Linked DNA regions of Homo sapiens. The protein of the gene in region 1 purifies or fractionates together with the protein of each later gene. This does not show direct contact. Each region holds a gene or a part of one and is shown in the gene's direction. Other genes may lie near its edges.

Region 1 (5,953 bases):
AGTAGAGACGGGTTTCATCATGGTGGCCAGGATGGTCTATCTCTTGACCTCGTGATCCACCCCACTCAGCCTCCCAAATTGCTGGGATTTACAGGCATGAGCCACCGCACCCAGCCTACAATAATTTTCTTAAACTTTACCTTTTATTTTAAAGTTCTAGTTTCCCGGCATTGATAGTTCCCTATTTGAAATATAATGTTTCTCTTGTAAGTGATATGATAAATAAACCCCTAATTAGCCTTAGAAGAAAAACCACTGCAAGATATTAAGCGTGTGTAAATGGGCTTTAGTCTGGAAACCAAAAAAAAAAAAAAAATTTAGTCATTCTATAGGATCATGTGAAAATATTTAATTTGCTCCTTTTAATTCTGTATAAACAAATCAGAGGTTCCTGAGGTTCCTGTTAAATTTTTAATGGCTAATAGCCCAGTGCCATCCAGTTGAAAAAACAACAGCAATCACAAAGTAGAGGTTTATATTGTGCGGCTTTTATATTCAGCTATTAGAGTGTTATTGGTAGTGTCTAGCCTTTTCCTCCACGACATTCCTTGACTTAATCCATTTGGGCCTATTATAGACAAAATAGAGCTTCTTTCTAGATATAAGGTCTTTGAGGCAGGGCTCAGTGGCTCATTCCTGTAATCCCAGCACTTTGGGAGGCCAAGGCGGGCAGATCACCTTAGGTCACGAGTTTGAGACCAGCCTGACCAACGTTAAGTAACCCCGTCTTTACTAAAAATACAAAATTAGCCAGGCATGGTGGCACATGCTTGTAATCCCAGCTACTCGGGAGGCTGAGGCAGGAGAATCGCTTGAACCCAGGAGGTGGAAGTTGCTTTGAGCCGAGATTGCACCATTGTACTCCAGCCTGGGCAATAAGAGCAAAACTCCATCAAAATAAAATAAAATAAAATATAAAATAACTTAAAAAGAACTTTGAATAAAATTCTATGAAAAAAGACACTAGAATGCTGTTCTTAATTTTAATAGTGTTAAGATAGGTGTTAGTGTGGTCTGTTCTTTACCTCCCTTTATTTGGTGCAGAGAAGTTAGATCCTGCTAAATTTCAATTAAGAGGGGACCTTAAAATAAGGATCAATCTCTTATTTAACCCTGTAAGTTACTTTAAAGCTAATACAAGAAAAACAAAGACAAGTGAAAGTAAGGAAACAGAAATTGCAAAGAGTAAATGAAAGAAAAAAACTTTCAAGTGGTCGGAATTGAAAGGCACTGGAAAACGTTTCAGGTTCTACCCATCTGAGTTTATTTATGCATGTCCTAATACAGGCAGTATTTATTGCTTGTCTGATTTGTCACTCACAGATGATTAGGACATAGTTCCTATCCTTAAGTAGCCCACACATTGAAGAAGAAATAGATTTGCATGAATTAAGAAGCAATAATATTTGCAGGGCAATCATAGTTGTATACACAAGTTTTTATGAGAGAATAGAGGAGGGACAGCTTAAATGCATTATACAAGATTACAGAGTGATGATTCTCCTTAATCAGTGTGATGAGATTTTGAAGTTTGTTGAGGAAGGTGTGAAACATATTTTCTTTGTCTGTTTTGGTGTTCTTATCCCGATGTTTCTGGAAAAGTAAAATCTCCTGTTACTTTGGTGATCCCAGATGTCAGCAACATTTTCCCTTTGATTCTTGACATTGTGTGAGAGTTGTGTCTGAGATGAAAGGACTAGTAGAGAGCTAAATTTAGCACAGTGAGGTGGACAGAGTTATTGCTAGAAACATATTTTCAAGTGTTGAATTTTTAACTTTTCCCAAAAAGAATTGAAGAATCTCAACAATGTGACTATTTCTCTGTCTCAACATTAATTTTTACAAGACAAACGAAAATAAACATGAAAAATTTAAATGAGGCACTAAAGGAAATTGTCTGAATACACACACCCAAATGGGTACAACTACTGAAATCTGGTGGAGGCCACACGGTGGCGCTGCAGGCTAAAGAGACGGTTTGGGAATTGCTCTGAGGATGCTATGCAAGTCACTAATAAAGGAAGACACGGACAGATGAACTTAAAAGAGAAGCTTTAGCTGCCAAAGATTGGGAAAGGGAAAGGACAAAAAAGACCCCTGGGCTACACGGCGTAGGTGCAGGGTTTCCTACTGCTGTTCTTTTATGCTGGGAGCTGTGGCTGTAACCAACTAGGAAATAACGTATGCAGCAGCTATGGCTGTCAGAGAGTTGTGCTTCCCAAGACAAAGGCAAGTCCTGTTTCTTTTTCTTTTTTGGGGAGTGTCCTTGGCAGGTTCTGGGTTTGGACGTTATTCGGTGACTGAGGAAACAGAGAAAGGATCCTTTGTGGTCAATCTGGCAAAGGATCTGGGACTAGCAGAGGGGGAGCTGGCTGCAAGGGGAACCAGGGTGGTTTCCGATGATAACAAACAATACCTGCTCCTGGATTCACATACCGGGAATTTGCTCACAAATGAGAAACTGGACCGAGAGAAGCTGTGTGGCCCTAAAGAGCCCTGTATGCTGTATTTCCAAATTTTAATGGATGATCCCTTTCAGATTTACCGGGCTGAGCTGAGAGTCAGGGATATAAATGATCACGCGCCAGTATTTCAGGACAAAGAAACAGTCTTAAAAATATCAGAAAATACAGCTGAAGGGACAGCATTTAGACTAGAAAGAGCACAGGATCCAGATGGAGGACTTAACGGTATCCAAAACTACACGATCAGCCCCAACTCTTTTTTCCATATTAACATTAGTGGCGGTGATGAAGGCATGATATATCCAGAGCTAGTGTTGGACAAAGCACTGGATCGGGAGGAGCAGGGAGAGCTCAGCTTAACCCTCACAGCGCTGGATGGTGGGTCTCCATCCAGGTCTGGGACCTCTACTGTACGCATCGTTGTCTTGGACGTCAATGACAATGCCCCACAGTTTGCCCAGGCTCTGTATGAGACCCAGGCTCCAGAAAACAGCCCCATTGGGTTCCTTATTGTTAAGGTATGGGCAGAAGATGTAGACTCTGGAGTCAACGCGGAAGTATCCTATTCATTTTTTGATGCCTCAGAAAATATTCGAACAACCTTTCAAATCAATCCTTTTTCTGGGGAAATCTTTCTCAGAGAATTGCTTGATTATGAGTTAGTAAATTCTTACAAAATAAATATACAGGCAATGGACGGTGGAGGCCTTTCTGCAAGATGTAGGGTTTTAGTGGAAGTATTGGACACCAATGACAATCCCCCTGAACTGATCGTATCATCATTTTCCAACTCTGTTGCTGAGAATTCTCCTGAGACGCCGCTGGCTGTTTTTAAGATTAATGACAGAGACTCTGGAGAAAATGGAAAGATGGTTTGCTACATTCAAGAGAATCTGCCATTCCTACTAAAACCTTCTGTGGAGAATTTTTACATCCTAATTACAGAAGGCGCGCTGGACAGAGAGATCAGAGCCGAGTACAACATCACTATCACCGTCACTGACTTGGGGACACCCAGGCTGAAAACCGAGCACAACATAACGGTCCTGGTCTCCGACGTCAATGACAACGCCCCCGCCTTCACCCAAACCTCCTACACCCTGTTCGTCCGCGAGAACAACAGCCCCGCCCTGCACATCGGCAGCGTCAGCGCCACAGACAGAGACTCGGGCACCAACGCCCAGGTCACCTACTCGCTGCTGCCGCCCCAAGACCCGCACCTGCCCCTCGCCTCCCTGGTCTCCATCAACGCGGACAACGGCCACCTGTTCGCCCTCAGGTCGCTGGACTACGAGGCCCTGCAGGCTTTCGAGTTCCGCGTGGGCGCCACAGACCGCGGCTCCCCCGCGCTGAGCAGAGAGGCGCTGGTGCGCGTGCTGGTGCTGGACGCCAACGACAACTCGCCCTTCGTGCTGTACCCGCTGCAGAACGGCTCCGCGCCCTGCACCGAGCTGGTGCCCCGGGCGGCCGAGCCGGGCTACCTGGTGACCAAGGTGGTGGCGGTGGACGGCGACTCGGGCCAGAACGCCTGGCTGTCGTACCAGCTGCTCAAGGCCACGGAGCCCGGGCTGTTCGGTGTGTGGGCGCACAATGGGGAGGTGCGCACCGCCAGGCTGCTGAGCGAGCGCGACGCAGCCAAGCACAGGCTCGTGGTGCTTGTCAAGGACAATGGCGAGCCTCCTCGCTCGGCCACCGCCACGCTGCACTTGCTCCTGGTGGACGGCTTCTCCCAGCCCTACCTGCCTCTCCCGGAGGCGGCCCCGGCCCAGGCCCAGGCCGAGGCCGACTTGCTCACCGTCTACCTGGTGGTGGCGTTGGCCTCGGTGTCTTCGCTCTTCCTCCTCTCGGTGCTCCTGTTCGTGGCGGTGCGGCTGTGCAGGAGGAGCAGGGCGGCCTCGGTGGGTCGCTGCTCGGTGCCCGAGGGTCCTTTTCCAGGGCATCTGGTGGACGTGAGGGGCGCTGAGACCCTGTCCCAGAGCTACCAGTATGAGGTGTGTCTGACGGGAGGCCCCGGGACCAGTGAGTTCAAGTTCTTGAAACCAGTTATTTCGGATATTCAGGCACAGGGCCCTGGGAGGAAGGGTGAAGAAAATTCCACCTTCCGAAATAGCTTTGGATTTAATATTCAGTAAAGTCTGTTTTTAGTTTCATATACTTTTGGTGTGTTACATAGCCATGTTTCTATTAGTTTACTTTTAAATCTCAAATTTAAGTTATTATGCAACTTCAAGCATTATTTTCAAGTAGTATACCCCTGTGGTTTTACAATGTTTCATCATTTTTTTGCATTAATAACAACTGGGTTTAATTTAATGAGTATTTTTTTCTAAATGATAGTGTTAAGGTTTTAATTCTTTCCAACTGCCCAAGGAATTAATTACTATTATATCTCATTACAGAAATCTGAGGTTTTGATTCATTTCAGAGCTTGCATCTCATGATTCTAATCACTTCTGTCTATAGTGTACTTGCTCTATTTAAGAAGGCATATCTACATTTCCAAACTCATTCTAACATTCTATATATTCGTGTTTGAAAACCATGTCATTTATTTCTACATCATGTATTTAAAAAGAAATATTTCTCTACTACTATGCTCATGACAAAATGAAACAAAGCATATTGTGAGCAATACTGAACATCAATAATACCCTTAGTTTATATACTTATTATTTTATCTTTAAGCATGCTACTTTTACTTGGCCAATATTTTCTTATGTTAACTTTTGCTGATGTATAAAACAGACTATGCCTTATAATTGAAATAAAATTATAATCTGCCTGAAAATGAATAAAAATAAAACATTTTGAAATGTGTGGTTGAGATTGCTGGAGATATTCATTTATATGTTGCAAATTTATTTTAAATACCAAATTTTTAATAAGCAAGAGGAACTAAAGGTTAGAATGAAAAACAAGTTTCATCAGTTTTTTTATATTACTATATATAAAATATATACTATATATAACTAACATTTTATAGTTTTTTAAGTTAGCTGTTCTGCCAGTCCCTTACCACAGTGTGGTTTCTTCTTGAATTGATCTCAATATTTATAAATAATATGTTTATAATACTATATCTTGATATTGTTTTGTATTTGAACCATTTCTTTCTATAATAGAAAAGCATTTTAGCTTTATTTCCAAACTAACAAACATATGCAAACATTGCAAATTCTTTTTCTCCTATTCTCCAATATAGATGTCACAGTTTCTTAGTTAAATTAGTGGTTATTATCTATATTGTTACATGCTTCAGAATATGCATTTGTATACTGTACTAGAATTACATTTCCATACTTGAAAAGTATGGTTCCTAGAGTTCGTAATTGTTATTTCATACTTGCATTATTTTCTATGTACCTCTATTGTTTTTTTCCATATCTTTCATTTGAATGTATTTTCTCCTTAAAAATATTCCAATTTTTAAGATACTCTGTCAATGACATTTATTTTCAGGAGCTCTTTCATCGTGAGTTTCCTGTTTC
Region 2 (4,558 bases), on another chromosome or scaffold:
TCCTAGAGATATCTATAGTTTCAGTATGGGAAATCTTTTCCCTCTACTCCAGTAATAGGGCATTTGTAAGTTTTATTTCAATAAAGAATGCAAGAAAGTAACGATAAAGAGCAAAGTCATAATGCTACCAGGAAAATAAATGGTCTTTATTCTCTTTTCCAGTTTTCTTTCAAAAATATTCTCAGCTTCTTGAAAAAAAGACTACAAAAGAGCTGGTTCATACAACATTGGAGTGTGTGAAAAAAAATATGCCCGTGGAAGGTAAAAATTAATGTGCCTAGAATTCAGTTGCTGAATGTACTATGTAAGGATCCCAAATCAATATTTCCAGTAAGATTCCCAGGTAGATCATACTGAAAAGTTGAGTCTCACAATAATTTAAGCTACAAATGTACAAATATCTAGGACATGCTGGGCATGGTGGCTCACACCTGTAATCCCAGCACTTTGGGAGGCTGAGGCGTGTGGATCACAAGGTCAACAGATCGAGACCATCCTAGCCAAAATGGTGAAACCCCGTCTCCACTAAAAGCACAAAAATTAGCTAGGCATGGTGGTACACACCTGTAATCCCAGCTACTCGGGAGGCTGAGGCAGGAGAGTCGCTTGAACCCGGGAGGCAGAGGTTGCAGTGAGCCGAGGTTGTGCCACTGCACTCCACCTGGCGACGGAGCAAGATTCCGCCTCAAAAAAACCCAAAAGACAAAAAAACAAATATATAGGACATAAAATTCTTTTGTTGTTGTTTTTTTGAGACAGGGTCTCACTTTGTTGCCCAGGCTAGAGTGCAGTAGTGCGAACATGGCTCACTACAGCCTCGACCTCCCGGGCTCAAGTGATCCTCCCATTTCTGCCTCCTGAGTAGCTGAGACTACAAGCACACGCCACTACACTCAGCTAATTTTTGTATTTTTTGTAGAGATGGAGTTTCACCATGTTGCCCAGGCTGATCTTGAACTCCTAAGCTTAAGTGATGTGGCTGTCTCAGCTTCTTGAAGGGCTGGGATTATAGGCGTGAGCCACGGTGCCTGGTCCTAAAATTCGTATATGTACTCATATATCTTTAATTTGTCTATGGAAAAAAATAGAAGCTTAATTGTGAAAAAGGTTACATTGCTTTTAGACTTCTTCGACCTTTGCTTCTTTCGGAACTTTCTATACACATTTGCTCTTTTTTTCACATATCAGTTAAAACCATGTGATGAAAATGTGATGATGATTTTTTTATGGATGTGAATTATTTAAATTATTTAAATTAATAGATTATTGTTATTATTATTATTATTTTTGAGATAGGATCTCACTCTGTTTTCCAGGCTGGAATTCAGTAGTGTGACCACAGCTCACAGTAGCCTTGATCTCCTGGGTTCCAAGTAATCCTCCACCTCAGCCTCCCAGTAGCTGGGATCAAAGGTGCCCACTACCACACTTGGCCAATTTTATTTTTATTTTTTGAATTTTTGTAGAGAGAAGGTCTTGCCATGTTGCCAGGCTGTTCTTGAATTCCTGGCTTCAAGCAATCCTCCCACCTCAGCCTCCCCGTGCTGGGATTACAGGAGTGAGCTACCATGCCCGGCCAATAGGTTATTTTTAAGAACAGTTTTATATTTACAGAAAAATTGAGCAGATAATGCAAAGAGATCTCATTTTTCCCTTGCTCTGCACACATGCTCTCCCCTATTGTTAACATCTTACATGAATATAGTATACTTCTTACAACTAATCAACTAATATTGGTATATTATTAATTAAAATTCACAATTTTCAGGTTTCCTTAGTGTTCACCTCATTTTCTTTTCTGTAATAGGATCCCCATCCAGAACACCACGTTACATTGAATTCTCATGTCTCTTTAGGCACGTCTTGGCTGTGGTAGTTTCTCAGATTTTCCTCATATTTGATGACCCTGACAGTTTTGAGCAATACTGGTCAGGTATATTATAGAATGTCCATCTATCAGAATTTGTCTGATGTTTTTCTAATAATTAGACTGGGATTATTGGTTTTTGGGAGGAAGATCACAGATGTAAAATGCTATTTTCATTACATCATATCAAGGGCATATATTATCAAAATGATTCTTGACTATTGATGTTGACCTTGATCACTTGGTTAAGGTAGTGTTTGTCAAGTTTCTCCACTGTGAAGTTACTCTTTCCCTCCCCACCCCTTTCCATACTACACTCTTTGGAAGGTTCAGTCCACACTTAAGGACTGGGGAGTTATGCTCTCCATTCATGAGGGTGGATTATGGTATCAGTCATGGTCAGCAGGCTGGAGACTCAGGAAGGAGTAAGAGTTGCAGTTTGAGTCCAAAGACCATCTGCTGCAGAACCTTGAAGAGCCAGTGCTGCAGATGAAGTGCAAAGGCAGTCCACTGAGTTTCCTCTTGCTCAGAGGAGGTCCCTCTTTTTGTTCCATTCAGATCTTCAATTGATTAGATGAAATCTACTTACATTATTGAGGGCAATCTGCTTTACTCAAAGTCCAGCAATTTAAATGTAAATCTCATCCAAAAGCATTTTCACAGAAACATCCAGAATGTTTGGCCAAATATCTGGGCACTGTGGCCTAGATAAGTTGACACATAAAATTAACCATCACAAGTATCTATATAATTTATTTGAAATTTTGTCCAGGTGATATTTGTCTCTTTTATTCCATTTATTTATTTATATAATCATTTAGTTATATCTGCATGTACTCATGGAGATATATATATCTATATATATATATATCTCTTCAACTTTTAAGTTCTGGGGTACATGTGCAGGATGTGCAGGTTTGTTTCATGGGTAAATGTGTGCTATGGTGGTTTGCTACATAGACCAACCCATCACCCAGGTATTAAGCCCAGCATCCATTAGCTGTTCTTCCTGATGCTCTCCCTCCCCGGCTTGCTCCCTCCACCACAGGCCCCAGTGTGTGTTGTTCCCCACTGTGTGTCCAACTCATGGATATTTATTTTAAATTTTGGTTTATAATCCAATACTGCTCTATTTTGTAGTTCCAGCTTTGGACATTGGGAACTTTTTCATTTGACTCCTGTGACCCTTTAACATATCACCACGTGTTTTTTCTTTTGTTTTGGTTTAGCACTTCCTCACTTTCTGGGACTGCAAAATGCTTGAGACTCACATTGTACATTTCATGTCCCTATCCTGGAATCAGATATTTCTTTGAGGAGCCCTAGTTCCTTTGATTGGAGAATAGTGTCCTATGAAATTTGATAATTTGTATTGTCATTTTCATTCAGTTCAATGTATTTTTAAAAATTTCCCTTTAGACATCTCCTTTGACTCGTGGATTATTTAAAAGTGTGTTGTTTAGTTTCAAGCGTATGGAGATTTTCCTGTGTTATTTCTTTTATTAATTTCTGGTTTCTTTTCACTGTGGTTGGAGAAAACGATATGATTTCAGCAATTTTAAATTAGTCGATGTTATTTAATGTCCCGAGATATGGTTTGTTTCAGCATATGTTCCAGAGGCACTGGAAAAGAATGGGTATTCTGTTGTTGGGTGGAGCGTTCTATAAATGTGGATTGGATCCTTGTAATTGATGATGTTTATAAGTTCTATGTTCTTGCTGATTTTCTGTGTAGTTCTGTCAATGGTTGAGAGAGAGGTGTTGATGTATCCACCTATAATTGTATATTTGTCAATTCCTCTTTCAATTGTATCAGTTTTGCTTTATACATTTTGCAGCTTTGTTTGGTGTATACACATTTGGGGTCACTTTACAAGGCTCTGTTTATTTTTTTTTCTGTCTAGTTTTTTTGTTTCTTTGTGGGTTTTTTTGTTTGTTTTTGTTTTTTTTTTGTTTTTGTTTTTCAGACGAAGTCTCGCTCTGTTGCCCAGGCTGGAGTGCAGTGGTGCGATCTCAGCTCACTGCAACCTCTGCCTCCTGGGTTCAAGCGATTCTCTTGCCTCAGCCTCCTGAGTAGCTGGGATTACAGGTGTGCGCCACCATGCCCTGCTAATTTTTGTATTTTTAGTAGATATGGGGTTTCACCATGTTGGTCAGGCTGGTCTCAAACTTCTCATCTCAGGTGATCCATCCACCTCGGCCTCCCAAAGTGCAGGGATTACAGGTGTGAGCCACCACGCCCAGCCTTTTTTTGGTATTTTTAGTAGAGACAGGGTTTCGCCATGTTGGCCAGGCTGGTCTAGAACTCCCGACCACAGGTGATCCGCCCGCCTCAGCCTCCTAAAGTGCTGGGTTTACAGGCGTGAGCCACTGTGCCCAGCCTTTTCTGTCTAGTTTGTTTCTGTTGCTCAGTTGACATTTTCTGTTGTTTTGTCTTCCAATTCACTAATCTCTCTATCCCCTTCATTCTGCTGAGTCCATCCACTGAGCTTTTTATTTTGGTTATTATATTATTCAATTATAAAATTTCCATTTTTTTTTTTTTTGTCTATCTACTGTGTTGAGGCTTCTTTATTTAAGAAAAAAGTGATACATGATGTGGGATTAAAATCAAGAACATCATTGAACTTCACCTTCCCTCCAACCAGTTGCCCCAAACTCCCCTGCCCCCACCCTTTGTGTTCCCAATTC

The links.
Region 2: the proteins of PCDHB10 (region 1) and CLEC4A purify together in Homo sapiens (co-immunoprecipitation; one large-scale study listed by IntAct). This does not show direct contact.

Annotation. Positions count from the first base shown.
Region 1 is NC_000005.10:141,190,359-141,196,311, forward strand, and holds PCDHB10 (protocadherin beta-10 precursor), read left to right. Parts: upstream 1-1,994; 5' UTR 1,995-2,194; coding exon 2,195-4,597; 3' UTR 4,598-5,289; downstream 5,290-5,953. UniProt on the Homo sapiens protein: Potential calcium-dependent cell-adhesion protein. May be involved in the establishment and maintenance of specific neuronal connections in the brain.
Region 2 is NC_000012.12:8,129,102-8,133,659, forward strand, and holds part of CLEC4A (C-type lectin domain family 4 member A), read left to right. Parts: intron 1-162; coding exon 163-261; intron 262-4,558. UniProt on the Homo sapiens protein: C-type lectin receptor that binds carbohydrates mannose and fucose but also weakly interacts with N-acetylglucosamine (GlcNAc) in a Ca(2+)-dependent manner. Involved in regulating immune reactivity.